Regions from separate parts of the Homo sapiens genome. Here regions 1 and 3 are each linked to region 2. The links come from fine-mapping of genetic effects on gene expression. A gene starts in region 2. Each other region holds a variant in brackets. All regions are shown on one strand. Distances are from middle to middle.

Region 1 (8,182 bases), 45 kb before region 2:
AGGTGGGAGGAGCCTGGTTACCTCAAAACCAACAGACCTACTTCTAGCCCCAGCTTGGTCACTACCAGTCGTGCACCCTGGAACCGGTCCCTTTGGCTCTATTAGCTGTTGGCAAGATTGGAATCTGGGCTGTTGTAAAGCCAGACACAAAGTGTTCTGGTAACTGATAATGGCTTCTCAAGTGAGAGTGAGAGGTGACAGCCTGCTGGCAGTCCTCAGAGCCCTCGCTTGCTCTCGGCACCTCCCCTGCCTGGGCTCCCACTTTGGCGGCATTTGAGGAGCCCTTCAGCCCCCCCACTGCACTGTGGGAGCCCCTTTCTGGGTTGGCCAAGGCTGGAGCCCACTCCCTCAGCTTGCAGGGAGGTGTGGAGGGAGAGGCTCCAGCGGCAACCGGGGCTGCGTGCGGCGCTTGCGGGCCAGCTGGAGTTCCGGGTGGGCGTGGGCTTGGCGGGCCCCGCACTCGGAACAGCCAGCCAGCCCTGCTGGCCCCGGGCAATGAGGGACTTAGCACCCGGGCCAGTGGCTGCGGAGGGTGTACTGGGTCCCCCAGCAGTGCCGGCCCACCGGCGCTGTGCTCGATTTCTTGCCGGGCCTTAGCTGCCTTCCCGCGGGGCAGGGCTCGGGACCTGCAGCCCGCCATGCCTGAGCCACCCACCCACTCCATGGGCTCCTCTGAGGCCCGAGCCTCCCCGTGGAGCACCACCCCCTGCTCCAAGGCGCCCAGTCCCATCGACCACCCAAGGGCTGAGGAATGCGAGCGCACGGCGCAGGACTGGCAGGCAGCTCCACCTGAAGCCCCGGTGCGGGATCCATTAGGTGAAGCCAGCTGGGCTCCTGAGTCTGGTGGGGACGCGGAGAGTCTTTATGTTTAGCTCAAGGTTTGTAAACACACCAATCAGCACCCCTGTGTTTAGCTCAAGGTTTGTGAGTGCACCAATCGACACTCTGTATCTAGCTGCTCTGGTGGGGCCTTGGAGAACCTTTGTGTCCATACTCTGTATCTAACTAATCTGATGGGGACGTGAAGAACATTTGTATCTAGCTCAGGGATTGTAAATTTACCAATCAGCACCCTGTCAAAACAGGCCACTTGGCTCTACCCATCAGCAGGATGTGGGTGGGGCCAGATAAGAGAATAAAAGCAGGCTGCCCGAGCCAGCGTTGGCAACCCGCTCGGGTCCCCTTCCACCCTGTGGAAGCTTTGTTCTTTCGCTCTTTGCAATAAGTCTTGCTACTGCTGACTCTTTGGGTCCGCGCTGCTTTTATGAGCTGTAACACCGCGAAGATCTGCAGCTTCACTCCTGAGCCCAGTGAGACCACAAGCCCACCAGGAGGAACGAACAACTCCAGATGCGCTGCCTTAAGAGCTGTAACACTCTCCGCAAAGCTCTGCAGCTTCACTCCTGAGCCAGCGAGACCACGAACCCATCAGAAGGAAGAAACTCCGAACACATCTGAGCATCAAAAGGGACAGACTCCAGACGCGCCACCTTAAAAGCTGTAACACTCACCGCGAGGGTCCGCAGCTTCATTCTTGAAGTCAGTGAGACCAAGAACCCACCAATTCCGGACACAAGAGGGAGTGAGGTCTGTAGAAACATTCAGCAAAAAGCACGCTGACTAGAGGGATCTAGCCCCTTTCTTTCATGGCCTGGATGTGTTTGGCCTCACTCTGGGTTGTATGTTGTGCTGAGGCCCACCACACCATCTTGGGACAACTGGGCCTTTGGTTGTACTTGGGACACCTCCCTCCCCCAGAATTATTTTAAGAAAATCACCTCGTCAGGAAGGCTGTGGACCTGGTCCATGAACTTAGTCCATTGTCATTGCTTTGTGAACTTGGGATGCAAGAAGTGAAGAACAGAACATTGACAGAAATATCTCGTGTCATTTCAAGACACAGTCGTGTCTTCCTTCTGCAGCCCAGATGGCCTTGACTTCTCCAGTTTTTAAGGGTGTCATTTCCCCTTAATTCTAAAATAACAACAGTTTGAACTCCCATCCCACAAATGCAGGAAGTCCATCTGCTCTTGGGTTTCCAATCCCAGAGCCATCCTAGAGGGCTTGCACCTCACCTCTGAGCGTCTCACGGTGGTGGCCTCTGAGCTGCAGCTGTTTGTTTGAAGTACGGACACAGGCCCAGCATCTTTGAAAAAATGCTATTGGAAGCTCTCAAATAACAAAAGTACCAAAGAGATAGTCTGTTACAACTGCTCAAAGCAGTAGTTTCAGAGCACCCACCAGTTCAGCTGCATTTTGCAAACCCTCCTTAAGCTTCTGGCAATGTTGGTGGCAGGGAGAGGCCAGTGAACTTCTTGCCTTTGGAAGTCTCTAGGCCTCTCTGAACACCCTCCTTGCCCATAAAGAGAGCAGAGGCCTTCCTCTTCCTGCCCAAAGACCACCTTGTTTTGTTTTGTTTTTAACTTTTTGCCTCAAGATGATTCACAGCAAGAACATCAATATCTTTCAAGAGAAATTCCTAGACCTATCCTGAAGGTACAACCTGGCTCCAATGGCTCACATAGGGCTAGTTGCCTTAAGCCTGCCTTGGCCTTAAATAACCCTGCAGGTGGGCCAGCAGCCGTGTGGCCCAGATAATGACAAATCAGGCCCAATCCAGGGCCTTACCTCGGTCATTCCTGCCCGGAAGGGAAGAGACTTGGTCTGCCTGCTCTTCCTGCGGTTGTCTGGGCTCCTGCCCTGCAGTGAACAATGACTGGACAAAGGATAATGATTTTCAGCCATGGGACAGCCTAAATTGAGACTTTGGGAAACAAATTCTGTAATTCCTCAGGGGCATGGTTCTGCTAAGGAGATACTCCACTGACATTGCTAAATGAAACCAGTAACACTTCAGTCTGAGGACTCTGTCTCGGACCCATCACAGATGTCTAGGATGTCTTCCAGAACAATGGGTATGCATGTACTTTATATTGACAAGACTAAGAAGGTTCACCCAATACAGGGAGACTCCCATGTGAAGACAAATCCTAATCACTCCTCTGTCATGCAGAAATGTCTTGTAAATCCTTGAATTACAGCTCCTTTGCTTCAAGGATTTAAAGCTCTATATTCTCCCCTGTCTCTGGCAGCAGCCCGAGTGCTCAATGGGAAGACCTAAGCCTGAGGTTCAAGCCCCAGGTCTGTCAGTTGCCATCCGTGACTTTGGGTAAGTCATGAATTCCCCAGGTCTCGGATTTCTTAGCTAAAAAACGAGGATAATACCACTTCTTCCAACCTGTCAGGGTTGTTGAGAGGATGAATGCAAGCAAACATTTGTTAAGTACACTTGCCTAGGCATGGTAGGATCCAAAAATTAGTAAGACACTGGCCTTATCAGACTCATGCGCTTTTAGGGTGTTTAGACTTCAATAGGTAACTTCATTATGATATGAGAAGAAACAGCTTAGATCTAAAGTGTTCTGTAAACTCTAAAGTGTTATATACTTGTGGATATTAGTACTGCTGTCATTTTTCCTATAAATTGGGTTTCCTTTCTGTTCACTGCTGGGCCAAACATGTCTTGAGCAGCTCACAGTGGGAAGCCTCTTCTCCCTGTCCCCCAGGCTCCAGGGGGTCTCCCTGCCCCCCATGGAACCCTAGAATCCTTTCAGGGGGCTCCTGTCATCTACCTACATGTTTCCATTCCACCACTCTTCCCAGGACACACTGGAAGTACAGTCTTTCCTCTTTCACATAATTAATGACAAATGTAAGAAATGGTGGGCTGGGCGTGGTGGCTCACGCCTGTAACCCCAGCACTTTGGGAGACCGAGGCAGGCAAATCACGAGGTCAGGAGATGGAGACCATCCTGGCTAATATAGTGAAATCCCATCTCTACCAAAAATACAAAAAAAAATAATTAGCTAGGCGTGGTGGCGTGCACCTGTAGTCTCAGCTATTTGGGAGGCTGAGGCAGGAGAATGGCGTGAACCCGGGAGGCGGAGCTTGCAGTGAGCTGAGATCGCGCCACTGCACTCCAGCCTGGGCGACAGAGCGAGACTCTCTGTCTCAAAAAAAAAAAAAAAAAAAATAGAAATGGTGGCCAGGTGCCTGGCTCACGCCTGTAATCCCAGCACTTTGGGAGGCTGAGGCAGGTGGAGCACGAGGTCAGGAGATCAAGACCATCCTGGCTAACACAATGAAACCCCGTCTCTACTAAAAATACAAAAAATTAGCCGGGCGTGGTGGTGGGCACCTGTAGTCCCAGTTATTCGGGAGGCTGAGGAAGGAGAATGGTGTGAACCCGGGAGGCAGAGCTTGCAGTGAGCGGAGATCGCTCCACTGCACTCCAGCCTGGGTGACAGAGCGAGACTCCGTCTCAAAAAAAAAAAAAAGAAAAGAAAAGAAATGGTAACTGGAGGCCAGCCAGGGATGACAAATGGTGAGCA[T/C]GTACAAGTGCCCAGCAGAGGATGTGTGGGAGTGGGGCATGAAAAGAGAAGCTCTGCAGTCCTAAGGAGTTGTGAAGTTTTATAATTTATAAGAAAACGAAAGTCAGAGAGGAAGAGCTATCTCAAGAGCATAGCGGGTTCATACCTCGCCCCCACATTCATTCTGTGGCGATCTGACCTTTTGGGACAGAAGAACAAGACAGGTGATGTTCTTCTCACCTCCTTTTCCAAACTCTTTTAAACAGGCCAACATTTGGGTGATATTGGTGGGGGAGGTCCTGCTGGTATCTCTGATAGTCCGCAGCCAACCCCCTTTCTGTCTTCACTAACCTGTCCCTCTGTCCTACCCCAGCCTCTCTTTTCAGGACACCCCAAAATTCCAGTGGAAAATTACCAGGACCATGAAAAAAATTAGCATTTCTTCTGAGCATTCTTTGAGTTCTTGTATATGGTGAGGTCATCTTCACATTTTTAAAAATTTTAAACTAGCCAGGTGCGGTGGCTCACACCTGTGATCCCACTTTGGGAGGCCAAGGCGGGTGGATCATATGAGGTCAGGAGTTCAAGACCAGCCTGACCAACATCGTGAAACCCCGTATCTACTAATTACAAAAAAAAAAAAAATTAGCTGGGCATGGTGGCACATGCCTGTAATCGCAGCTACTTAAGAGGCTGAGGCAGGAGAATTGCTTGAACCCAGGAGGCGGAGATTGTAGTGAGCTGAGATTGCGCCATTGCACTCCAGCCTGGGCAACGAGTGAAACTCTGTCTCAAAAAAAATTTTTTTTAACTTTAATTAATAAATGTGTTCAAAACCCATACAAGTTATTTAAGTAAATACGTATTCAGAAATATACACAGTTTTGATCAACACTTGGTGCACAGTATGAAGTTTCAAAGAGGTGACTCATGTTTATTGTTGCACATTGTAGAAATAAATTCTCAGCCTAATGTTGGAAAGCTGAAGTAAATAGATGCTGAGATTCATGAAATTCTGGTAAGCAGTCACTACGTGTGTCTATACGTATACATTAACAGAAGGGTTTCCTTGTGATTACTGGGTGCTCACCCATCCACTGGTCCCAGGAGAGGCCTCCTGTCCACCCACAAAGCGAGATACTTATGGCGGTTGGTCACAGCCTCTTGCTATTACACCACTTTCTTAAGCCCCAGACTCAAGATTACTTCCCCCTCTCCACTCAATTCTTCTCCCTAGGCCAACTGTGGTCACCACATACTAAAGCATAAGTCAGTTGCACAGTTCTTCTGAGATCCCAATTTGGTGACAAAGTTCATAACTGCCACACCTTCTTCTTGGGTCAGTAGCTCAAATCTGCAAACATTCATTGAGTAGTCCCTGTGTCAGGCACTGTGCTAAGCACCTGGGGACAAAAACAGAAAGGATACTATGTTTGTCTTGGAGGATGTTTAGTTAGAAAGAGTGGGGGAAAGGAAATCTAAGGTTTATTGTTGTGCTGGGCAATTTGCTACTATGTACTTCCTCTGATTCTATGTGAGATAGGTCTTCTCTTCCCACTTTACAGAGGAGGAAACTGAGTCTTAGAAAGGTTATATGCTTTTCCCAAGGTAACTCCATAAGTGGTACAGCTGGCTTGTAAGCCCAGGTCTGACTCTAACTATTCCTGTTGACTGCTCCTGCCAGCCCCACGCACACCAGCCACAGACAAAAAGCAGTAAGTGGGACAATTCCAGCAGTAGGTCCAGTTGGAAGGCTGCCAGGGAAAGAACCAACTTTGGGGACTACTGGCAGGTGTTTGGGTGCTGCCAATTCCCCCTGTGGGAGGCTCACAGCCCAAGGCAGCCAGGGGTGGGGTCTGTGGGAATGAAAATTACTAGAAAGTGTAAGAAATGCCTTGACAGGGTTTGCATTTGGCACAGAGGATCTGCAGAAGACGTGGCTGGGCTGGTGGCTTCTGAAGCAGAGACTTTATCATCCCGCTCCCATCTGCTCACCCCAGCGCCTCCATCTTCCTGGAGAAATGCCCTCTGAGAGTGTTTATTCTTCAATAGCTGTTGATTTCCTGCCACATACCAGGCTTCATTCGAGGCAGACAAAGCAAACAAAACTCCTGCCACATGGAGTGTTCATTGCAGCAGGAGGAGACGGACACCAAGAGTCAATACATGAGAGAAATGTGTAGCATGTCAGACAGTGATACGCGCCACCGAGAACAATAAAGTAAGAAAGGGGTTTAGGGAGTAGGGAGGGAGGGCTGCCTTTTTGTTTTCCTTTTTTCCTTTTCCCTCCCCCACCTCCATTTTTTTTCCTTTTTTTCTTTAGGTTTTTATAGAGACAGGGTCTCCCTATGTTGCCCGAACTGGTCTTGAACTCCTGAGCTCAAGCGATCCACCTGCCTCAGCCTCCCAAAATGTTGAGATTACAGGCGTGAGCCACTGCGCCTGGCCTCCACCTCCATTTTAAATAGAGTGGGCAGCAGGCCTCCCCCAGTAGGTGACATTAGAATGAGGACCCAAGGGATGTGAGGAATGAACCGTGTGGATATCTGAACGAAGGGTGTTGTGGGCAAAGGGAACAGCAAGTGCCAGGCCTCCAGGTAAGGGCGTGCCCGGCCGGTGTGGGAGGGGTTGGCGCCCAGTGAGTGAGGCCCACCTAAGTGAGGGATGGCTCCTTCATGGGGCTCATGGCTACTGGCTGACAGACAGAGAGACAGACAGGGAACTCGAGAACTCTCAGCCTCCCCCACTTGTGGAGAACATTCCCTGGAGGAGAGTCGAGAGAGGCATGGACATAGGGCTCTTCTTCCTGCAGCTTCTGAGTAAATTATGATCCCCCTGCACACTCGGGCTTTAGCCCTCCTTACACTCACCCTCTCCTCTCTTTCTTCTTGATCCCCTTTTCTTTTTTCCTTTTAAAATTATTTCAGATTATTCTAGATTATTCCATCCCCCATAAATCTGACGTGCTTAGACACGGAGAAGGCAGGAGGGTTTTGGGGGTCAGGGTGAGGAGGGTTTTGGAGGTCAGGTGTATTTGTTTCCCAAGGCTATATCAAATTATCACACACTGGGTGGCTTAAGATGACGGAATGAATTCTCTCCTGGTTCTGGAGGGTCTGAAATCAGTTTCATTGGGCTGCAATCAAGGTACTGGCAGGGCTGGAATTTTCTAGGAAGGAATGTGTTCCTTGCCTCTTTTGGCTCCTGGTGGCTAGCCTTCGTGTGTGCGTGTGTGTGTGTGTGAGAGTGAAATCTTTCCCTGCCTCTTTTTTATACCAAAAATTTCTTAAGAGCTCCAATGCAATTGCATTTAGGGCTCACTTTGATCATCTAGGATAACCTCCCCATCTCAAGACCCAATATACAAAGACACTGTTCCCATATAAAGTAACACTCACAGGTTCAAGGGATTAGGTCTGGATATCTTTTGGGGGCCATTTTCATCCTACCACAGAGAGTGTTCCAGTTTCAACATTCATCTCTATATTCATTCAGTCATTCCCTATTCGACACAGGGTCACTGGCTATTTCCTCAGTGCAAGGCAGTGTGCAGGATGCTGGGAATACACGGTGAGCAAAGGAGAGCCCCCCAGGAGCTTGCGGTTTAGAAGGAGAGATGGATGTGAATCAAATAGTCACTCAAATAAAACGCAGAGTTGCGACTGTGGTAAGTGCCATGAGAGCCTGTATTTGGGGTTTTACCTGGTAAGGAGGCCAAGAAAGCTTCCAGGAGGAAGTACCCTTAAATCTGCATGAGTTGGGGTAACCTTCCCTTCAAAGAGGGAAGGAAGAGACTTCCAGGTGGAGGGGA
Region 2 (8,182 bases):
CTGAGAGCCTCCCTTAGAGCTGCTGAGAGGCTAGCTGGGGACCAGGGACTCGGTATGGACTCATGGGCTGTTTTCTCTTGGCTTGAAAAAAAAATCTCTCCACATGATCTGGCCTCCTCTTATCATATCTGGATGACCTAGCACCTGATGTGAGTCCTGAGGCAGTGGCGCGGCTGGGCTGCGCTCAGGGTTCAGCATTAAATCTTAGGGGAGATTTAGATGAGATTCCAGAAAAGGGAAAATTAACCTCTAGTGACAGGAAGCAGATCAGTGATTGTCTGGGGCTGGGATGGGGTGGAGAATTGACTGCAAGAGGTGGGAGGAAACTTTTTGGGGTGATGGGGATGTTCTAGATTTTGATTGTCATAATGGTTACACAGGTGTGCACATTTGTCAGCCTTCATTTAATTGTTAACTTATTATTGATGCATTGTTAATTTAAAAAAACAAATCTTAGAACAGATTGGTAGCAAGTGCCATGTTCAACAAATGGTCAGGCAGGCACCAGTTTGCTTAATTCTGAGGACTCCTGTTCAGCCACAACAAAGAACATGTAAGCCATGCAGATTCATGGAAGACCAAAAATGAAGTAATACGGCACAAAAAAGAAGGAACTCAGGGTGGAAATTCACAGTGAAGACAACAGCTCTCTAGGGCTCAGGTCTGCTCTGTGCAGAGAGGGAGCTCACCCCCTGGGAAGAGGCCTTCCTTGCTCTTGGTTGGCCTGGATGTTTTGAGCAGCTGGGACAATATCCTGCAGAAAGTAGAAGGAATAATCACGAGGGGAAATGGGGCCCTGCTAACATGTGAGTAATAAAAGGGGGAGACAAAATCCAGATGGAAAGCTGATCCTGTCTTTACTTAAAATTCTGATATTTTATTCACCTTGGACTTTTCCCGTTAATGCAGATTTTAAAAATATTTCATTAAAACATGATTTATCTTGATTATTTGGGCACGCTCTTAAATTGTGCAGCCTGGGCAAGTGCCTCACTTGATCACTGATGTCCAGCCCCAAGGGAAAAGCAGGAAGAGAGAACCAGCCTCTAGTCCACAGAACTCAATGGCGATCAACCTCTGCAGGCCTGGAGTGGGGAGAGGCACGGCTAGGACCACAGCCTGGAGGGACCCAGGACGGCCCTGGAAGGCTAAGTGGGGGCGGAAGAGACCTGCCTGGGGCTGCAGCTGGGAAGACTGCTGGGCTTGGGGGGTGGGGCAGTACAGACCATAGGAGCGTTAGGTGTGCTGGGCCCAGGGGTGGCTCCTGGTGACTCACCCCCTTGAGGGTGGACCCAGTGTCTCCCCTCTGCCACACTGAGTCTTTAAGTATGTAGTTGGTTTCCTGGCTGCCCTCAGGCCTGGAGGGAAACCCACCTATTGTGCCAAGAGTGGTGGAGAAGCTCAGAAGCGGGGTGCAAAGTGGGGAAGGGTAGGCAAGGGCTCCAAGCAGGGAGTTGGGAGGTGATTCAGGGGTGAAGCTGCTGATAGGCTCAGGAGGGAGGAACATGGGCCCGAGGTGGGAACTCCAAGGAAGATAACAAGGCTGGGAATAGAAGGCCCAGAGCTCTGTTTCCCAGGCTGGAGCCTCAGGAAGGAGTTCCCAAGGCACTGGGGTAGTGGTAGCTAGAACAGCCATGGAAGCAGAGAGCTAGGAGTTTAGTCTCAAAACAGTAGTGAGATTTTCTCACACCTCACTCTCCTGGACAGCTGCCAGGAGATGTGTGCTTGTTTGCATGGCTGACATTTTTCTGTAAAACTCCCTTCACTCCACATGGAAATGACCCAGGTAGGAAATGACCAGGGTACAAATGGGCCTGATGGCTGGCCTACACTCTCCCTGGGGCGTTGAGGGAGCAGAAGGTGGGTCCCAGGTGCTGCCAATAGCCTCTGGGTGTGGAGTAGCCAGAGGTGGGCAGGTGTCTTTCCAGAAGGCAACCAGGGAGCTGAAGGGAGAAAGCCAGGGACCAAGGCCAGAGAGAAGGAGGCAAAGGAAAGGGTGGGAGTCAGAGAGAGCCTGGGATTGTACAGTCAGGAGGACAGCAAAGGAGGCCGGGAGGAGGGGGAAGGAAAGGGCCAGGCCAGGGTCAGTGGGGAAGTCAAAAGCGGTGCAGGCCTCTAAGTCCAGCTCTGTGGGGGAAGCATCCAGGTCTTGTGCTGCCGCAGCGCCTTCACTCTGAAAATAGGAAAACCACCAGCTAGGAATTTCATTCCTCAGTGTCCCCCCGCCACCCGCCCCAACACATCAACTGTGTGTTCTCCCAGGGCAGGGCCCCTGCCTTTCTGTTCTTTGCCCACCACTCTCACTCCCCAGCAGCCACCGTGGGCCTGGTGCTGAGCAGTCAATCCTTGCTGAACTGAACTGCCCTTGGTGGGGATGTCACACGGGTCAGACTGCTTTGTCAGCGAGGACTCTGGGACAGGCCAACTTGTGTCTCTGATGCAAACCAAGGAAAAGAGCAAGAGGTGAAACTGATGTTCCTTCCCAGCCTTCCCAGTGCCCTGTGCCCCGTGCCAGGCACTTCCTCTGGTTCTATGTGTTCTCATTTTCCCGATGGTGAACCTGTCAGGCCTTGCGAGTTCCCCTCAGAGTTAGGGTTCTCATTCCCCCGAACTCGCCCAGACCCCCAAGCCTGAGCTCTTTCCCTAGGTTGGTGGGACCTTCAGGGAAGGAGGCTGAGGGTGCCCTTCGGAGACCAGTGGCCTGCCTGGGGGATGAAGTGGAGGCCCTCGGATCTGGCCTGGGCGTGCCAGGGCTCAGTGGCAGCCAGAGAGGGGCTGGGCTCCTCCCTGGGAGAGAGGGAAGAGGAGCAGCTGAGGACAGGAGGTGGGTATCTTCTCAGGAGGATGGATGGGAGGGGCCCCTTTGTCATGGTGGGCTGGTGGATGGGGCAGGAAGGGGATGTGGCCTGTGGCTGAATTCTGCTCTCTTTGAAAGCCAGGGAAGTGGCTCCCACAATAAGCCAAGATGAGAGAACTCTAGGGTCCCTGCCTGGGCCCTCCAGAGTTCTCTCCTCCAGCCTCTTGCCTCTGGGTTAGATTTCCCTCAAGACACCCTAAGCTGGGGCACAGTTTCCACTGTGAGCTAGAAGTTTCCGTTTTCTTGAATGTAAATGGGGGGCGATAGTAGTCACTTCCTTTCAGTTTTTGCTCAAATATGTCACCACAGAGAGCCCTCTCTGACCATCCTGTTCCCAACTGCCAGGACTCTGCCTCCCCTACCTTCTGGATCCTTTCGCTGCTTTGTTTTTGTGAACGGCACTTTTCACTTTCTAGGAGGCTGTGTAACTGATTTATTGATTTTTGTCTGCTTTTTCCCCCCAACCCGCAAATACTAGAGCCACAGGGCAGGAGGCTTTGCCTATTTTGTTCCTGTGTCCCCAGCACCTAAAGCAATGCCAGGCACTCAATACATATTTGTTGAATGAACACGTGAAGGATGCGTGTGAAGTGTTTCGCAGGATTCTTGGCATCTTAAGATTATTGCTGCTGCTGTTGTTTGCTGTGTGACTTGAGCACATTCCTTAGCCTCTCTGGCCCTCTGTCTCGCAGTCTGTAAAATGAAAAGAGTGAACCACTAAAGATCCATGAGCTTCTTTCAAACTCTAAAAATCTTGGTGCCTCTGAATGCTCAAGAAAGTTCTTCCCAAACCTCAACAGGAACTCCTTTTTCTTTTTTTTTTTTTTGCAGTTCTCAGCAGCAGCTCAGCTGGAACTTAGCCGGAGGTGCTAAGGACTCCTTTTGCAATAGCCCTTCCTTTACTTCTTTTGACTCTGAGGATCAGAATAGGGTATAGGTTTGGGATCACGAGTCAGCCCAATGTTTCTTGGAACAGTTTCCATTCAGATAGTTATGTTTTATTTCATTGACTTTGATGTGTTGCTTCTGGCACTTTATTGTTTTCAATAGAGGGCAATTCATGATGTGCATAATTAAAGGTCATTTGATTTTCATTTCTTTGTTAAGAGTTTCATAAAAACAAACAGAGTTCAGGAGAAAGCAATTGCCAGACCATGCGCCCAGAGACCATGTGCCCTGATTTGGGATTTGGACACCTGGTCCTTGGAGATGAAGGTTCCCACTGTCCTGCCATAGGTGGGGCTCTGCCCCTGGCCTGGAACGTCCCCTGTGGGGATAGGGTCATCCCTCAGAAGGCTCTGGAGCATCTGTTTCAGGGGCTCAGGTCAACAGGACCAAGACCATCCTCTCAAGGCTCTGCCCTTTCTCTCAGGGCCCCTCTGAAGAAGTAGCTCAGAACACTCCTCTGCTTCTGTGGGGGCAGTTTCATGAGTAAAGGCAGCTTCAGGTTCCCGGTATTTGGAATTTGGTATTCGCTGAGTAACTGGGATGGCCTCGATGAGGGGCAGAGGAACAGGTCTGGCTAGTTCTGTGTTGTTTATACTGGGGATTACTTCACACGTCCCAACCGGCTTCCCCGCCCCATTTGGTGGGGGCTGGCCCTTGGCCCTCCAACTCCTTTACCCTACATGCCTGAGAAGCCAGGGACCAAGATGGATCTTCTCCTCGACATCAGCTAAGCCTGGAGGACTCTTCCCCTCAGAGACCATGGAGAGGGACAGCCACGGGGTGAGTGTGACCTCAGGCCTCGGGCCAGATTCTCCCAGCGCTGAGGAAGCAGGGCTGAGGCTGGGAGACAGGTGGGACAGCTACCTCTGTGTTTCAGGTTTGGGGGAAACTGGCTGTGCCTCTTCTAGTTTGAAGCTACTTACGATCAAGATCTCTTGGTCTCCTTTTAACGTGGTTCTAGAAAAAGCCCCTGGGAGGAGAAGCTGCTGGGATTTGGGGTCTGGCTGGTGAGCACCCCAGGGCTATGTGGCTGAGTCGTGGGTTTCCTGCTCTGTGGTCTGTGAGCACTCCTGCCGGGCATCCATAGTGTTACAGCACCAACTTTGCCGATTGGGAATCCAGGCTAATCTACTTTAATCTCATTTTTGCTGGTTGGAAAATCAAAAGCATTCTAACTGCAATTCAGGGGCATCTTGTCTAAACCCCTCACTACACTCCTAAACCTTCCCAGAAAACTGTGACTTTCTGGGTGCATTCAAGATTTTCAAGGGGATGTTTCAACCTCCGTTGGTCACTTCTTTTTGGACTTAATAACTTTCATGCTTGGGAAGTGCTTCTTGATGTTTAACCACAAGTCCTGCTACCACTCAACTTCCTTTCTTCTGCTGCTCTTGGGGTAGGAGAAAGCAGCTGGCCTGTCCTCTGTGGGAAAGCCAGTCATACACACATGAAGGCTTCCAAAGATCTTGTTCTGCTGTGCCTCCACTTTCTTTTCCTCCAGGAAATCCCTTTTGTGCTCTCATTTCTCCTTTAGGTCTTGTTTTCTGCCCCCTCCAAATTCTCTGTACCTTACCGACATGGTAGAGCCTGGGACTCTGGGAAGAATGGGCTAGCACTGGGTTTGGGAAAGATCAGCTCATCCTATGTTTTGGCTTATAGTTGGCTTGTGGTCCATTCTGCACCCCCAATGTGTTTCTGCAAACTTTACCATCATTTTTTTCCCACCATTCTTCCAGCCCCCTCTTGACTTTTCTTTCCCAGGCTGCCTCCCTTGCCCTCTGCTCTGGGCTCCTTCGTTCATGTCTCTACCTCACCAAAGTCACTTGGCCCTAGGCCTTGGGGGGTTATCAGAGCCTCTTACTGTTGAGCAGTAAGGGGGGTACACAAGGGCATGCAGAAGGTGAACCCTTAGTCACAGCCATGGGGCATCCTCCTTGGCAATATGCTGGGAGCCTAAACTAGATGGTCCCTAAACCCAAGAGTGAGAAGGGCTGAGCTATCCGGAGGGTGGCCATGCTCCCACTGGAGATGGATAGTCCATCCCTGAGACAGGGTGATGGGGCGATATCTTCCCAGGAAGCTCATCTCTTCAGAGTCAGGGATCAACATGAAGGCTGCTGGAGGGATACAGGACAGAGAACAGACTTCTTTGAGGAACTCCCAATTAATCTATGAATTAAGTGTCAAATATTATGATAGGTGCCATATTCATTCTGAAAAAAAGATTGTCCAAACTTACCTTGGAATGGAAGAATGGAATCATTACATTCTTATTTAAGGTTCTTAACTTCACTCCCCTATTTAAGATGGAACTCTGAGAGAGTGAGCCTATAGTTGGGGCTCGTATTCCCATCTGCAGCAGGTTTCTTAACCTTGATTAAATAGGAGTGGTCTGGGAGAAGCTGGTCACCTGAGCTTGTGCCTTCTCCTTGAGGGCTTTATTGCAGAGAGATGCATTGTGATTTCTGTCCCTCAACTCCAAAATGTCGTGAGGAAGATGGTGGCCAGTGGGCTTGAGCCTGATGGCACTCCTCTGTCAGCTGCTGGATCTTCAGAGGGATCTTGGAAAAGAGGTGGAGAAGGGTCTCAGTTTCTCATATTCAAAAGAAAGTTGCATGTCGTGGTGGACAGAGAACTGACCATGTTCCCCGTCAGCTTTGGGCAAGCCACTTCACCTTTCTGTACCTTAGTTTCTTCATCTGTAAAATGGAATAATAATACTACTCTCAAAAGAAGAATGTTGGACAAACTAAATTTAACAGAGTTTAATTGAGCAAAGAACAATTCTCAAATGGAGCAGTCCCCCGAAGGAGAATAGATTCAGAGAGATTCCCACACAGCTGCGTGGTCGGAGAGGATTTATGGACAGAAAAAGGCAAGCAGTGTATGGAAAAAGGAAGTGAGGTACAGAAATAGCCTTATTTGAACACTGTTTGAACAGTTGGCTGCCTTTGATTGTGCAAAATTGGTGATTGTTAACAAGAGTAGTTTACAGTCTGTTTACACGTCCAGTTGAGTTATAGTTCATTATGTACAGAGAAACCTTTTGATCCGAACTTAAAATATGTAAGGAGGCAGCTTTAGGCTAAGCTTAATTTAATAATACCTACCTCAAGGAGTCTCAAAATAGTGTCCTTCCCATAGTAAGGCTCATTTAGAATAGCATCTGGCATAGAGAGATAGAGATAGATAGATAGAGATGGAGTCAGAGAATGTTGAAATTTATCATCACTGCCTAGAATTTGGGGTGGGCTCCTATAAATTTGGACAAACATCTTCTTCTACCTGTGCCTCAGCTTCCCCACCAAAGAAGAGGGTTGGACACATTCCCCCCTGAGGCTCCTTTCTGGCTCCCTGACAGTCTGGAATTACATAGAACGGGGATGACAGGTGCGCCACACCAGATTTGTTCTTGACAATGCGTATTTTGTGCTTTTTCAATTCTCATTTTTAATTCTCAGAGCAGTGCAATGCTTATTAAAGAAAGACTGAATTAGACCCATTGATGAAGCAACATTCCTTTGTGGAGTGGATTTTCTTATACTGGGCCTTCTTCAAGTGGAACAGGTTCCAAATTAGCCCAAGGCCACAGGTGCTAGGGATTGGTGAGAACCGTCTGGGGGCCCACCGCTGGTCCAGGATAAGGCACCCTTTCCAGAGGAGCTGGGCAGTTCCTGAGATGGCTCACCCGCGGGTCAAGTCACTCTGCCATGCCGTGTCCCAGCCCCATCCCAGCCCCAGGCACCCCAAGGACCCTGGCACCTGCCCTATGCCCCTGCAGGTGTGTAGCCCTCACCTCGTCCTCCAAGGACCCTGGCACCTGCCCTATGCCTCTGCAGGTGTGCATCCCTCACCTCGTCCTCCAAGGACCCTGGCACCTGCCCTATGCCCCTGCAGGTGTGTAGCCCTCACCTCGTCCTCCAAGGACCCTGGCACCTGCCCTATGCCTCTGCAGGTGTGCATCCCTCACCTCGTCCTCCAAGGACCCTGGCACCTGCCCTATGCCCCTGCAGGTGTGCAGCCTTCACCTCGTCCTCCAAGGACCCTGGTACCTGCCCTGTGCCCCTGCAGGTGTGCAGCCCTCACCTTGTCCTCTGTTTCATGTTGTCATTGGTGAGGAGCAGACTTCCTTTGGCACAGCCACCTCGATTTCCCCTGCATTGTCCCCTGAGACTTGGCAGATGTGAGCGTAAGCGTGCGGGAGTGTGTGTATTGGGCCCTGGGCTGGGGAGCTGGGTGGGAAGGACAACTGATGTAACAATGGCCACTTAGCTTAAGTGTCTTGTTTTGGCAGAACAGATTCCTCTTGGTATAGCAACAACAAGGGTGGATGTGCCTGGCCAAGTGGGCAGGGCACTGGTGGTGCAGGCATGAGGG
Region 3 (8,182 bases), 29 kb before region 2:
AATTTCTAATTTAATTCCACTGTGGTCAGAGAACATATTTTGTATGACTTAAATCCTTCGGAACTTATTTAGATTTATTTTATGACCCAGAATATGGTCAGTCTTGGTAAATGCTTTGTGTATACTTGAAAAGATGGTGTATTCTGCCGTTGTTAGATGGAATGTTCTATAAATGTCAATCCAGTCAAATTGATTGATAGTACTATTCAAATGTACTATGTTCTCATTTATTTTCTACTTATTCTACCACTTATTGAGAGAAGTATATTGAAATCTCTGACAGTAATTGTCAATTTGTCTGTTTGTCCTTGCAACTCTAGCAACTTTTACTGTCTATATTTTAAAGGTGCATAAACACTTTAGAATTGTGTCCTCTTGATTAATTGATCCCTTTATAACTATAAAATGACCTTCTCTAGCTCTGATAATATCCTTTGCTCTAAAACCTACCTTGTCTGATAGTAACACAGTAACTCCAGTTTTCTCTTGACTAGTGTTAGTGTGGTTTACACTATCCTATCCTTTTACTTTTAACATGTAGTACCTTTATATTTAAAATAAATATTTTCCTTCCTTCCTTCCTTCTTTCCTTCCTTCCTTCCTTCCTTCCACCCTTCCTTCCTTTCTCTCTCTCTCTCTTTCTCTCTTTCTTTCGGTGGAGTCTCACTCTGTCGCCCAGGCTGGAGCACAGTGGCGCCATCTTGGCTCACTACAACCTCCGCCTTCTGGATTCAAGTGATTCTCCCGCCTCAACCTCCCAAGAAGCTGGTACTATAGGCGCAGGCCAGGGCCACCAAGCCTGGCTAATTTTTGTGTATTTAGTAGAGACAGGGTTTCACCATGTTGGCCAGGCTGCTCTCAAACTCCTGACCTCAGAAGACCCGCCCACCTCGGCCCCCCAAAGTGCTGGAATTACAGGCATGAGCCACGGTGTCCTTGTTGCTAATTTCCTGTTGGCAGCATAGAGTTGCATCTTGCTTTTTGGGTTGGGTTTAGGTCTATCGTCTTGCTATTTCTTTTCTCTTTGTCTCATCTGTTCTGTCTTCCTTTCCCATTTTTTCTGCCTTCTTTGGAGTATTTTAAAATCTCTTTTGTTGGCTTATTAGCTATAACTCTTGGCTGTTGGGGATCTTTTTTAATGGTTGCTTTTGGGTTTATGGCATACATCTTTAAGTTATCACAGCCTACTTCAACTGATATTATAGTCCTTTATGCCTAGTAGAAGAATTCTACAATAGCATACTTTCATTTTTATCCTTTTTAGCCTTTGTGCTGTTTTTATCATGCATTTTGCTATTACAAATATTCTAAACCCCACAATACGTTGTAACTGTTTTTGGTTTAACAGTCCCTTATCTTTGAAAGAGATTTAAATAATTTTTAAAAATTCATATATTTACCTATGTAGTCACTACCATTTCCAGTATTCTTTATTTATTTGTGTCACCCCAGGTTTCCATCTGGTATTCTTTTCCTTCTGCCTGAAGAATTTCCTTTTACTTTTTTTATGGTGTGGTTCCGCTGGTGGAAATTCTCTCAGCCTTTTTTTTTTTTTTTTTTTTTTTTGAGACGGAGTCTGGCTCTGCCACCCAGGCTGGAGTGCAGTGGTGCGATCTCGGCTCACTGCAAGCTCCGCCTCCCGGGTTCACGCCATTCTCCTGCCTCAGCCTCCTGAGTAGCTGGGACTACAGGCACCCGCCACCACGCCCGGCTAATTTTTTGTATTTTCAGTAGAGACGGGGTTTCACCGTGTTAGCCAGGATGGTCTGGATCTCCTGACCTCATGATCCGCCCGCCTCGGCCTTCTCTCAGCTTTTTTATGTCTGAAGATGTCTTTATTTTTGAGAGATGTTTTTGACGGGCATGGAATTCTAGATGGACTGTTTTCTCCTTCAAGTGCTTTGAAGATGTTGTTCCAGTCTTCTTGCTTCCATTGTTTCTGATGAGAAATCCGTATCTTAATTCTTCCTCTGTATGTAACATGTCTTTCTCTAGCTGCTTTTAAGATTTTCTCTTTAACATTGGTTTTTAGTAAATTGATTATAATCTGCCTCACTATAGTTTTCTGCATATTTTTGTGCTTTGGGGTTTGTTTTATTGTTTGCTTATTTGTTTGTTTGTTTGGTTGGTTTCTTGGACCTGTGGGTTTACAGTTTTCATTAAGTTTGAAAACTTTTTGGCTCTTATCCTTTCATATTTTTCTGTTTCCTCTCTCATTTGCTTTAGGGACTCTTTTAGGGAATCCAATATTAGGCTACTCGAAGTTGACTCACAGCTCACTGACACTATTTTCTTTTTCCTTTTCATTTTTGATGATTTTTTCCCCTGTGTTTCATTTTCTGAACTGCTGAGCAGTTTCTATTGCTAAGATTTCAAGCTCACTTAACTTCTGCAATGTCTACTCTGCTCTTAATCCAATCTGGTATATTTTTCATTTCTGGCATTGTAGTTTTCATCTGTAAATTAGAATTACATCTTTAAAAATATTCTTCCATGTCTGTACTTAGCTTTTTGAACATATGAAATACAGTTATAATAGCTGTTTTAACATCCTTCTCTGCTAATTCTAATATCTGTGTCAGTTCTGGGTTGGTTTCAATTGATTGATTATTTTGTCATTATGGGTCTTGTTTTCCTCTTTCTTTGTATGCCTGGTAATCTGTGGATATATGTTAAACATTGTAAATTTTACCTTGTTGGGTACTTGATATTGTGGTATTCCTGTAATTATTCTTGAACTATGTTTTGGGATGCAGCTAAGTATCTTGGAAACAGTTTGATCCTTTATGTCTTGCTTTTGTGATTTGTTAGGTAAATTTAAAGTACTGTTTAGCCTAGGGCTAGTTACTTCCCCCTACTGAGGCAAGATCATCCTGAATCCTCCACCTAATTCCCTGTGAATTGTAAGTTTCTCTAGTCTGTACAGTGGGAACAGGCACTATTCTCAATTCTGTTTGCATACCAGGTACTGTTCTCTCTCATTCTTTCAGAAGCTTCTTTGCCTGGCCTCAGATAGTTTTTTCTTATGAGTACAATCATCAGTATTCTGCTGAACACTTGAAGGAAACCCTCTTTAGATATCTGAAGTTCCCTTTCTGTTCATCTCTCTCCTCTGGTATTCTGTCCTATTAACCCCACCCACATAGGGGTTGAGTTCCCCCACTGACCTCCACCCCCACCCATGCTATGGCCTGGAAATTCTCTCAAGGCAATTCGTTGGGGGCAATCATATGGCTCTACTTATTTGTTTTCTGTCTCTAAGGGTCCCTGACTTTTTTTTGCCTGATGTTCAAAGTCTCAAAAACTATTGTTTCATACATTTTGTCCATTTGGGGAGGGCATGTTTCTGGTGGGAGGATAAATGCAGTTCCTGTAACTTCATCTTGGCCAGAAGAGGAAGTCCTTACTTTCATTTTTGAAATATATTTTTGCTGATTATAGACTTCTAGGTTGGAAGTTATTTTCCATTAGCACTTTATTTATTTTTATTTTTATTTTTTATGGGTACATAATAGGTGCATATATTTATGGGGTCTGAGATATTTTGATATAGCATGCAATGTGTAATAATCACATCGGGGTAAATGGTGTATTCATCACCTCGAGCATTATCCTTTGTGTTACAAAAAATCCAATCATACACTTTTAGTTATTTTAAAATGTACAATTAAATTATTATTGACTATAGTCACCCTGTTGTGATAGCAAATACTAGGTCTTATTCATTCTCTCTA[ACTAT/T]TTTTTTGTACCCATTAACCATCTGCACTCCTTCCCAACTCCACCCTTACTATCTTTCCCAGCCTCTGGTAAACATCCTTCTACTCTTATCTTCATGAGTTCAATTGTTTTAATTTTTGGCTCCCACAAGTAAGTGAAAACATGCAAAGTTTGTCTTTTTTGTGCATGGCTTATTTCACTTAATGACCTCTAGTCCTATCTATGTTGTTGTAGATAATAGGATCACATTCTTTTTTATGGCTGAATAGGACCCCGTTGTGTATATGCACCATATTTTCTTTACCCATTCATCTGCTGGTGAACACTCAGGTTGCCTCCAAATCTTGACTATTGTGAATAGTGCTACAGTAAACATGGGACTGCAGATATCTCTTTAAAATACTGATTTCCCTTCGGTTGAGTATGTACCCAGCAGTGAGATTGCTGAATTGCATGGCAACTCTATTTTTAGTTTTTTGAGGCACCTCTAAACTGTTTTCCAACACCAACAGTGTTGTCCAATATCAACAGTGCACAAAGGTTTCCTTTCTCCACACCCTTGCCAGCATTTGTTGTTGCCTGTCTTTTGGATAAAAGTCATTTTAACTGGAGTGAGATGATATCCCACTGTAGTTCTGATTTGCATTTCTCTGATGAACAATGATGTTGAGCACCTTCTCATATACCTGTTTTCCATTTGTATGTCTTCTTTTGAGAAATGTCTATTCAGAACTTTTGCCCGTTGTTACATTGGATTATTAGATTTTTTCTTACAGAGTTGTTTGAGCTCCTGATGTATTCTGGTTATTAATCCCTTATCAGATGGGTACTTTGCAAACATTTTCTTCCATGCTATTGGTTGTCACTTCACTTTGTTGATTGTTTTCTTTGCTGTGCAGAAGCTTTCTAACTTGATTTGATCCCATTTGTCCAATTTTGCTTTGGTTGTCTGTGCTTGCAGGGTATTACTCAAGATACCTTTGCCTACTCGAATGTCCTGGAGAGTTTCCCCAATGTTTTCTTGTAGTAGTGTCATAGTTTGAGGTCTTAGATTTAAGTTTTTAATCCATTTTGATTTGATGTTTGTGTATGGCAAGAGATAGGCATCTAGTTTCATTCTTCTGCATATGAATATCCAGTTTTTCCAGCACCATTTATTGAAGAGACTGTCCATTCCCCAATATATATTGTGATGGTTAATACTGAGTATCCACTTCATTGGATTGAAGGATGTGAAGTATTGTTCCTGGGTGTGTCTGTGAGCATGTTGCCAAAGGAGGTTAACATTTGAGTTAGTGGACTGGGAGAGGCAGACCCACCCTCAGTCTGGGTGGGTACCGTCTAATCAACAGCCAGTGTGGCTGGAATAAAGCAGGCAGGAGAAGATGCAAGAGCAGACTTGCTGAGTCTTCCAGTTTCCATCTTTCTCCCTTGCTGGATGCTTCCTGCCCTCGACCATCAGACTTCAGGTTATTCAGATTTTGGACTCTTGGACTCACACCATTGGTTTGCCAGGGGCTCTCGGACCTTTGGCCACAGACTAGACTGCACCATTGGCTTCCCTACTTTTGAGGTTTTGGGACTCAGACTGTCTTTCTTGCTCCTCAGCTTGCAGACGGCCTACTGTGGGACTTCACCTTGTGATCATGTGTGTCTATGCTCCTTAATCAACTCCCCTTCATATATACATCTATCCTGTTAGTTCTGTTCCTCTAGAGAACCCTGGCTAATACATACATTCTTGACATCTTCTTTGAAAATGAGTTCTCTATATGTATTGATTCTTTTTTCTGTCTTCTCTATTCTGTTCCATTGGTTTATGTGTCTGCTTTTATGCCAGTACCATGCTGTTTTGGTTATTATAGTTCTGTAGTATAACTTGAAGTCTGGTAATGTGATTCCTCCAGTTTTATTCTTTTTGCTCAGGATAGCTTTCGCTATTCCAGGTCTTTTGTGGTTCCATATAAATTTTAGGATTATTTTTTCCATTTCTGTGAAGAATGTCATAGGTATTTTGATAGAGATTGCATTTAATCTGTAGATTGCTTTGGGTACTATGGACATTTTAACAATACTGATGTTTCCAATCCATGAACATACACTATCTTTCCCCCCCGCTTTTTTTTGGTGTCCTCTTCAATTTTTTGCATCAGTGTTTTATAGTTTTCATTATAGAGAACTTTCACTTCTTTAAGTTAATTCCTAGGTATTTTATTTTATTTGTAGCTATTGTAAATGGGATTACTTTCTTGGTTTCTTTTTCAGGTTGCTTACCTTTGGCATATAGAAATGCTACTGATTTTTGTATGTTGATTTTGTATCCTGCAACTTTACTGAATTTATTTATCCATTCTAATAGTTTTGGTGGAGTCTTTAGGTTTTTCCAAATAAAAGATCATATTATCTGAAAACAAGGATAATTTGACTTCATTCTTTCCAATTTGGATGCCCTTTGTTTCTTTCTCTTGTCTTATTGCTCTAGCTAGGACTTCCAGTAGTATGTTAAATAATAGTGGTAAAAGTGGGCTTCCTTGTCATGTTCCAGATCTTAGAAGAAAGGCTTTCACTTGTTTCCCATTCAGTATGATATTGGCTGTGGATCTGTTACATATGTCTGTCAGCACTTTAAAGATATCATTCCACTGTCTGCTGGCTCCTATTGTTTCTGTTAAAACGTATATTAAGTTTCTAGGGCTTCTGTAACAAAGTGCCACTTGGGCCTCTCTAGAGGAACAGTCTTGGGCCTTTGGCTTAAACAACAGAAATTTATTTTCTCATAGTTCTAAAGTCCAAGGTCAAGGTGTTGGCAGGGTTGGTTTCTTCTGTGACTTCTCTCTTTGGCTATAGATGACCATCTTCTCCCTCCGTCTTCACACGATCTTCCCTCTGTGCAAGTTTGGGTCCAAATCTCCTCTTCTTATAGGGACACTAGTCATACTGAATTAGGGCCCACTTTAATGACCTCATTTTAACTTAATTACCTCTGACAAGACACAGTCTCCAAATATAGCCACATTCTGAGGTACGGGGGTTAGGATTTCAACATATGAATTTGGTAGGGGGTGGGAGATACACAGTTCAACCCATAACAAAAAGTCAGTCATCTTATTTTTGTTCTTTTAAGATTATTTATCTTTTTCTTCCTGGCTTTTTTTTAAAGATTTTATATTTGACTTTATCTTCAGCAGTTTTACTGTGATGTGCCAAGGGGTGTTTCTCTTTGCATTTTTCCCACTTGGAGTTTGTTAAGCTTCGTACAAATTGCACTCAGTCACTCATCGATTATTTGGAATTCTCTTGTGTTCAATGGCAGCTTTGTCTGTGCCCCATTCCTTGGATTTTGCACACTCTGGTTCCCTACAGCTGGCTCCTTGACTCTCCCACTTTGAAGGTTCATCCCCTTTTAAGTACTCTAGGGATAGGCAACACTAACAAACCCTAGCATTTGGAAGCACTCCCATCTTCTAAACAATGGGATTTTGCAATGATTTCTTATTTAAAATAAAATACGCTTTTCTTCATTTAAAAAGGGTGCACTTTATTAAATAAAATTTGGAAGTGCAGAGAGTTTACAAGAAGGAAAAATAAATCATTCATAGTCCCATGACATAACCACTGCTGCTAGTTTTTGTTTGTTGTTTTTTGAGATAGGGTCTCTCTATGTTTCCCAGGCTGGACTTGAACTCCTGAGCTCAAGTGATCCTCCTGCCTCAGCCTCCCAAGTAGCTGAAATTATAGACATGTTCTGCTGCTAGTATATTGATGTATTTTCTCCTTGTCTTTGTTTTAGACATAGATTAAGCTGTTTTTTAAAAATACAGTTTTATTCATGCCAGAAGTATAATTTTGAATTTGCCTTTTATATTTTATATTCTGTCATTGTATTTTTCTATATTATCAAAGGGTGGCTCGTATTTATTGAAAACTAAAAGTTGAACATTGTATTAATGTATTTTTTAGTAATTATCTTACTTAATCCTCACAAGTATAATATGAAGTAGATACTATCATTATCCTTACTTTACAGGCAGAAAGTTGAGGCTTAGACAGGTTAAACAATTTGTTTAGGAATTGGTAGAGCTGGTATTTCCAACCCAGATCCATTTGAGTTCAAAATACAGGCTTTTGACCACATTCTATACCACAGTAATTAAAAAAATTGTGACACAATTACATACAGTAAAATCCACAGATCCTAAATGTATAATTTGGTGACTCCTGACAAATGTATGTACCACACAACCACTTTTACTGTCTGCATAATTCTTCTCTGGGTCTTATTTGTGTTTTAATTTTGTTTTGACAGAGTCTTACTCCATTAGTCAGGCTGGAGTGCAGTGGCGCTATCTCAGCTCACTGCAAGCTCCACCTCCCAAGTTCAAGCGATTTTTGTGCCTCAGCCTCCTGAGAAGCTGGAATTATAGGCGCATGCCACCACACCTGGCTAATTTTTGTATTTTTAGTA

Alleles and levels. Alleles are on the strand shown, and positions count from the first base shown. SD is a standard deviation of normalised expression in the study named. Not every link is listed here.
With allele C in place of T in region 1, the expression in monocytes after R848 of the gene that starts at base 4,470 in region 2 is higher (small effect, 0.31 SD a copy in Quach 2016).

Evidence for each region. PIP is the estimated chance that this variant, and not a neighbour inherited with it, causes the effect. A credible set is the group of variants that fine-mapping cannot tell apart.
Region 1: its variant is the best candidate, but not a certain one, in a credible set for the expression of TMPRSS13 in monocytes after R848 (Quach 2016, PIP 0.89).
Region 3: its variant is the best candidate, but not a certain one, in a credible set for the expression of TMPRSS13 in whole blood (TOPMed, PIP 0.71).

Annotation. Positions count from the first base shown.
Region 1 is chr11:117,971,060-117,979,241 of GRCh38, reverse strand. No RefSeq gene overlaps it. Among named protein-coding and RNA genes, the nearest start is that of IL10RA, 11 kb to the left of the region's middle. RefSeq lists an enhancer at 1,744-1,913 and a silencer at 6,010-6,424. The variant T/C (reference allele first, on the strand shown) is at 4,393.
Region 2 is chr11:117,925,690-117,933,871 of GRCh38, reverse strand. It overlaps TMPRSS13 (transmembrane serine protease 13), which reads left to right and starts at 4,470. Exons shown (of 13, transcript NM_001077263.3): 1 at 4,470-4,585. The coding sequence starts at 4,565. RefSeq lists enhancers at 709-1,247, 1,480-1,609, 1,248-1,787.
Region 3 is chr11:117,954,749-117,962,930 of GRCh38, reverse strand. No RefSeq gene overlaps it. Among named protein-coding and RNA genes, the nearest start is that of IL10RA, 28 kb to the left of the region's middle. The variant ACTAT/T (reference allele first, on the strand shown) is at 3,735.